Linked DNA regions of Homo sapiens. The protein of the gene in region 2 binds, or shares a complex with, the protein of the main gene of each other region. Each region holds a gene or a part of one and is shown on either strand. Other genes may lie near its edges.

What was found. Proteins that work in one complex are often made in the same cells at the same time.
Region 1: DEK (region 2) and SMARCA5 share a complex: the UniProt entries of both Homo sapiens proteins name them as parts of the B-WICH complex.

What each region holds. Positions count from the first base shown.
Region 1 is NC_000004.12:143,516,613-143,520,368, reverse strand, and holds part of SMARCA5 (SWI/SNF-related matrix-associated actin-dependent regulator of chromatin subfamily A member 5), read right to left. Parts: intron 3,015-3,756; coding exon 2,940-3,014; intron 1-2,939. UniProt on the Homo sapiens protein: ATPase that possesses intrinsic ATP-dependent nucleosome-remodeling activity.
Region 2 is NC_000006.12:18,250,871-18,254,626, forward strand, and holds part of DEK (protein DEK), read right to left. Parts: intron 1-3,756. UniProt on the Homo sapiens protein: Involved in chromatin organization.

The DNA of each region.
Region 1 (3,756 bases), on a different chromosome or scaffold from region 2:
AGTAATGTCCTACAGATGACAAGCCTCTGTTATTTATGTTTTCCAAGATTACAGACTGTTTTTAAAGTGCTGAACAAGATACATATGTGAATGCATATTTTACATAATTACATTTCTTAATTTATAGATAATGAAACAAAAGCCAAGAGCACGCATCTACAAGATGTTTGGACTGAAAAAATAATTATTGTAATTATGTTTGGAATCAAGATAAACTGCTTGAAAGAATGAAAAGGTTAAAACTGAAATGTCTTGAGGGAGAAAAACCAACAGAACCTAAAAAGCAGAAACAAGAGAGTATGATTAGGAACCTGAAAGAAATCAATTATAAAATCAAACGGAAATTAAAGTGAATAGCTTTGGACTAGCTTCTTTCTCTGAAACAGGAAGAAATGAGGTAGGATAATAGAGGCTATACATATGTTTGAAAAGAGAAAGAAAATAAAGACAGGCCTGCAATTCTTTGTGGAGGAAGATTGGAAATGAGGGCATGGTAGAAATGGAGAAGAAAGACTGATCAGAGTGGGGACATTTTAGAATGGCTAAATGAGACTGATAGGCAATAAATACTCAAGGTCCAAGAAAATAAAAACCATAAACTTATACTGGCACCAATCAGCACTAGTATTTAGTTTTCTGAAGTAGTACTCAGCATTCTGGGTTCAAGAACGAGGAGTGGATAGTGAACTTATCTATGGTTAGAACTAGCAGATGACAAGGGAGCTTCTTGCTTAGAAGAAAACTGTGCAGGTGAAGATCATGATGTCAAAAAAGGAAATAATGCTGGGAGACTGAAAAACCTGGAAGAAACGAAAAGAGTTCCAATAAAGGCCACTAAGAAAATGAAAAGCATTGTAGAGAGCCACTGAAAAACCTCCATTTCACAGTCAAATTTGTGTTATAAATAACACTTTGCAAAAATGTTAAGAAACTTGGAAGGGGCCAGATCATAAGAAAGGAGGCAAATACAGAAGCACAAAATAATCCATGCAATAATAGAAAAATACTAAACTAGGGTGATATGGAAAAGAGAATAAACTCGTAAGTAAACTTATTGTTTACAAGTATGCAGTACTGTCATGAACATCTTGAGTATACCTGAAGAGGAACTTTCATTCATTGAGGTAACACTAAGGTATGCTAAGTAAAAATTATGAATTCAGTTTTGGATATTCTCAAGTAAGAGGTATGAATAGGATTTTAAAGTAAATGAAAATACGGATTACAGGCTTCTGGGCTAGAGGTTAAGTATTTGAAAATATTCAGTTTAAAGATACCAGGTAAAAACCAGTAAGAATCAAACTGTCTAGGAAGAAATGTTCAAATTTTAATAAGGAAGGACAAAGGAATAAAAAAGCAAAGAGGATATTATCACGGGAAAAAATGTCTTTCAAGGCAAGTCAAGATTTTTGAGGAATGGTCAACAATGTCAAGCACAAATCAAGAAACTAAAACTAAGCCTCAGAATTGGCAATTAGATTCACCAGCAGAGTGTGTCAGAATCTAAACTATAAAGGGTTAAAGCAGTATTAAAATATGTAGACTGTATTCAAAGTAGTATTCACTTTAAAAAAACAGAGCGGCAAATCTATTTTTTCTCTAAGTTTGATAGCAAAAAAGGTGACAGTTACATATATACATATGTAAAATATATAACAAATCAAACCTAAAGATATATCATTTATAATTTACATAGTGTTATATGTATTGTGCATATTATACATGCACATAAAATACATACCATAATTTTAAGATTTTGAAGCTATTTAAGACATTCAAAAATATTTACTGATTTGGAAGAGAAAGTCAAAGGACAAGAAAAAAGTATGTTTTAAAAAATATGTAAGATCTGCTATGTGCCAGATACTGTTCTGGGTACTGAAGACAGAAAGAAAGATTAAGACACTGTTTTTACCCTACAGGAGCACACTGTGTAGTGGTATTCTTATTTAATACATTGTTATTTTAACTTTTTGAGATTTCAATACAATTAAATGAGTTTAATCCATATAAAGCATTCCTAACAGGGTCAGATACGGAGTAAACATTCACTGTTAGCCACTACTACTATTACTAAAACTGAATTTAAATTTAAAGCTCTGTGTAGGTACTGTTTAAGTCAAGTCATAGTTTTGAGAAGTTTCTTAGAAGATACGGAACGTGAACTGGGACTTGAATGACTCCAATATAATGTCATGTTCTTTTTGTAAAGACCCCATCTATAATATAAAAATGCTGTGAACAAGGAGCATATTTCTTTTTTTGGTAACTAGCAGAGTACAATGCTAGTCAAGTGCAGAATAAACATACACTGAGTAACTATTCTGGTCTTCACCTCGCTTCCAAGGTTAAATTTTTAAAGGTGTTGTTAACATAACTAGATAATGACATCATATTATGTTAATTCATATAATACTTCCATTTGGCTTACATAGACACATAAGATATGGAAGTTATAGTATTCCATATTACACATATTTCAAATGGATATCTGTGCCATAATTACAAAAATTAAACAGACATTGCTATGGTTTGACTGTGTCCCCCTCCAAATCTCCCATGTTGTAATTTAATCCCCAACGCAACAGTGTTGGGAGGTAGGGCCTAATAAGAGGTGATTAGGAAAAGATTACTGTCAGTATCTCAGGAGGAGGTTATCACCAGTGAGCTTGTTATAAAAGAAAGTTCAGTCCTGTCTTGCTCTCTTCTCTTGGCCTTCCTCCATATAATGACACTGCAAGAAGGCCCTCAACAAATGCTGGCCTTGACCTTGGACTTGCCAGCCTCCAGAACTCTAAGAAATAAATTTCGTTTCTTTATAAATTACCCAGTCTGTGGTATTGTTGTAACACAAAATGGACTAAGATAGATGTTTAGTACATTTAATCACCTGATAAAAAGTTTTCCTTATAGACTCTATTCACAAGCCTAGAACATACCATTTTTTCTTCATAGGTAGGATCTGGTTCTTGGATTTCCTTTTGCTTTCCAGGTGACGCATCATCAAATATTTCCTGGTAGAAAGAAATAATTAAATAGAATTGGTCTTCGAAAATAGTAAACATACCATTATAGACCAATTTCTGACCAAAACACATCTTAAATAATACATTCTCACCCCAAACTTCCTAGAAACTTAAACAGCTGTCATCTAAGCTAACAGAAAAACTGATAAAATGATATTAGATACTATGGGGATAACAACGTATTTAACCCATATATATAAACTGTATGGTTGTTGCCAAGATTAGAACACAAGATTATCTTCATCATCCTAAAAGAAAACTACATTTAATACAAGCCAATCTGTTTCTCTTTTTCTGTAATAACCATGAAACCAAACTAAATAGTATAAAATGTGGGGAAAAGTTCCCCTTTTGTCATAAAACTACAGTATCTACTGTGCTACCACACAAATGTCTACAAAGAAATCAGAATTAGTCACCCTGATTTCCACCTTCTGGAATATTACAAAAACTTTATCTCGCAGCCTAAATTGAATACTCTAACTACAGTCTGATTCCTAAACTAGTAATAAATGTTATTCTTGCAAATATATTTATCCTGACATTCATATGTCACAAGCAACAAAAAACAACTTCTACACTGCAAAGTTCTATTCATCCATTAAAAAAAATTGGCAGAAGTAATCTTCATTAATGATGCACAAATCTATGCTAGGCAATATATGCTATAATAAAACTATCTGTGACCAAAAAGTTGTGGGGAGGAGATCTGGTACGGTACTGGAATAGA
Region 2 (3,756 bases):
ACTTCTGGCCTCTACTTTCAACAATGTCAGGCTCATATTATCACTGATGCCTATAAGTATACAATAAATGATAAGTATGTTAATTATGAAACTAAGAATATGCTGCTATTATTCTGATAATCAATTAAACCATGTATATTAAAAGCAGAGATCACCTGATGAAAATGAGTTGATTACAGTAAACAATAAATTTAATTTTTAAGTGCTTTCTCAAGGAAGTTTTGCTAAATTCTAAAATTGAAAACCATAAAATTACCTAACATCAAGAATGTTAAAATGCGCATTACAGAATTAATATTTATTTCTGGGATTGAGCATCTTTTATATTCTTTTATTTCTACCTTTGTTACTTTATTTTCTGCAATAAGCAGAAACATTAAGGTAAAATTCCATAACATAACCTTAAGGTATCCAATTGTGTAAATGTTTGTGATAACTTTAGGCAATATTTTTCTTGCAGAGACTAGAACGACAGGTCCTTTACCTCCCAGGAACCTCCAGTCTAGGGGTCACTGTCACCTACACAAAAATTAAGAAAAAGTGGCTGCTTTGTATAATATGGTACTCTTGAGCTCTCTGCAAAGAAACCACAGGATAACCTAGATTGCTCCAACAACGTACCCTTCTAAAGGCACACTAGGAAACAGCAAAATTAGGTCACTCCAGGAACTTGAAGTTGGTGGATCAAAGACATTTCTCAGAGAAGATTCTCTATAAGAAATCGTGAATGCATACACATATCCTTGCTATGTGAGATACTACCATTAACAACTATTATCAGAACCTTAATCCATGTGGATAAATTCTTTGATAGCACCGTTTGGAGAAAAGGTAACTCTCACTGTCCAAGCTCTTACTACTTGTTACATGATCTCCAGGTCTCAAATGTATTAGAAAAACATAATATCCCTCACAATCTCAGCTCAGAAACCAGACACAGGTAGCAAGGATGTAATCTGTATATCGAATTATTAGTATGAGGACTGAAACAGGTTCTGGATAAATCTATCCAGGAAAGTGAAAAGATGTTAAGTTATTCAAGCAGCCAATAAAAAAAAAAATGCAATTCCCAAAAGTAAACGAGGAGTTTTAAAACCAAAATCCAAAAAGTAGTAATATACAAATGCCTTAGAGTTTTCCTATACTACTCCAAAAATAGTTAAATCTATTAATCAAAATCCAGTGTCAACAGCATTATCTCTTTTTGGAAACAAAATCTGATTAACAAATAAAATAAGGTAAAGTACAATAGAAGGATAGGAAAGCAATCAATGATTAATGTTGTGTTGATTAAACCATTGAGAAATTGTTAAAGAGGAGAAAAAGGAAACTTCTTGTAGCATAGAAAATAGCTCTAGGCCAGACATAGTGGCTCATGCCTGTAATCCCAACACTTTGGGAGGCCAAGGTGAGAGGATCACATGAGCTCAGGAGTTTGTGACCATCTTGGACAATATAGTGAGCCCTTGTCTCTAAGAAAATGTAAAATTTAGCCACACATGGTAGCATACACCTATAGTCCCAGTTACTTGGGTGGCTGAGGTGAGAGGATCACCTGAGCCCAGGAGGTCAAGGTTGCATTGAGCCATGATTGTACCACAACACTCCAGTCTAGGCAACAGAGTAAAACGCTGTCTCCAAAAAAAAAAAAAAAAAAAAAAAAAAGAAAATAGCCTGAGCTCGATACTATCAGATTAAGGAGTAATCATCACAGAATCACATATGAAAAACTGACATAAGAGTTAAGATTCTATATGACAAGAAAAAACAGATTCTCACAGTGTGGTTCAAGGACTTTGGGGTTTCCTGAGACCTTTTTCGGAGTCTCCGAGGTAGAAACTATTTTCATAATAATAGCAACACTATTTATCTGCTCTTTTCACTGTGTTGACATTTGTACTAATTGCAAAAGCAAAGGAAAGCAAAGGTGGGTAAAATTGATGGCACCTTAGTACTAATCAAGGAAGCAACATATATTAGTCACTGTATTCCTCACAACCACACACCAGCAGAAACAAACAAGGCAAATGGTTTCACTTAATAATGTCCTTGATAAAACAATAAATACTGTGTTAACTCTCAAGTACATGTCTTTCTAATATCTGTGACAAAATGGAAGATATACATAAATATGGCTACAACTGAAGTTCAATGGTTTTCTGAAGGAAAAGCATTTGTGTATCTGAGTTGTGAGCTAAACACGCTCCAAGCTCCTTTTTCATAGAACCCCACATTTTTTTTTTTTTTTTGAGACAGTCTCGCTCTGTCGCCCAGGCTGGAGTGCAGCAGCACGATCTCGGCTTACTGCAAGCTTCACCTCCCAGAGAACACCACTTTTTAAAAGAACAAATATGGCTAACTCAGACTTAGGTATTTGATAGAGATGTTTTCAAACATGAACAAGGTGAGCTTGTCACTTCAAGGAAAACTGAGAGCATTTATCGCCAATGATAAACGTTATGATTTCAAGTGGGAACTAGAATTCTGGAAAATTCACATCTACTACTGTGAACTTGATAGTTTACCAAGGCCTAAGTAATTTTTCTGATGAGATGATATTTATATTAATGAGCATGATTTAATGACAGTGTTCAATAAAACGTCAACATTTGGAAGACATAATTCAGGGAACCAATATTTACAAGCGGTAAATGCATGTTACAAAACTATACATACAAGACCCAAGTTAATTAACCTGGTTTCAGACCTACATTAAACATTACAACTAATCTTTAGGAAACTACAACTTATGTAGAGTTTTGGTATTGTATGGTATCAAAAAGAGAATATACACAATTATCTAAAAAGACTTTAAAAATATTCTTTTTATGTGAGGCTCGGTTTTCTTCATATACTTATTATTTTGAGAGAGGATCTCATTCTGTCACCTAGGATGGAATGCAGTGGCATGAAAATAGCTCACTGCAGCACTGACCTCCTGAGTTCAGGCTTCCACCTCAGCCTCCCAAGTGGCTGGGATTACACGAGCGTGCCTCAGCGCCTGGCTAATTTCTTCTTGAGACAGTCTCACTCTGTCACCCAGGCTGGTCTTGAACTCCTGAGCTCAAGTGATCCACCTGCCTCGGCCTCCCAAAGGGCAGGGATTACAGGCATAAGCTACTGCATCAGGCCCTTCATAGATTTTAAACAAAACAATACATTGCAAAAGACTGAATGCGGCCAGGCACGGTAGCTCACGCCTGTAATCCCAGCACTCTGGGAGGCCGAGGCGGTCAGATCACCTGAGGTCAGGAGTTCGAGACCAGCCTGGCCAACATGGCAAAACCCCGTCTCTATTAAAAAGACAAAAATTAGCCAGGTATGGTGGCACACGCCTATAATCCCAGCTACTGTAGAGACTGAGGCAGAAGAATTGCTTGAACCTGGGAGACAGTGGTTGCAGTGAGCAGAGATTGTGCCACTGCACTCTAGCCTGGGCAACAGAGTGAGAATCTGTCTCAAAACAACAGTAACAACAACAGTAACAACAACAACAACACAAAAAGACTGAATGCAGAAGCAAATGGTAATCAAGCTGTTTTCTCTTAAGCCAGACATTAAACAGATGTACAAAAACATAAAATGCCACTCTTTCATTCTTTTGAAAAGTTATTTTTCCTAGAAAATATTATTTTTAACATTTTAAAATAAAAATTTTTCAGTTCTAATGTCAAATACAGTGAAGATCAAAATAACTCATATTAAAAAAAGCTCTTGGGGTCCTCACTAATTTTTTAAGAGGGCAACAGTATCCTG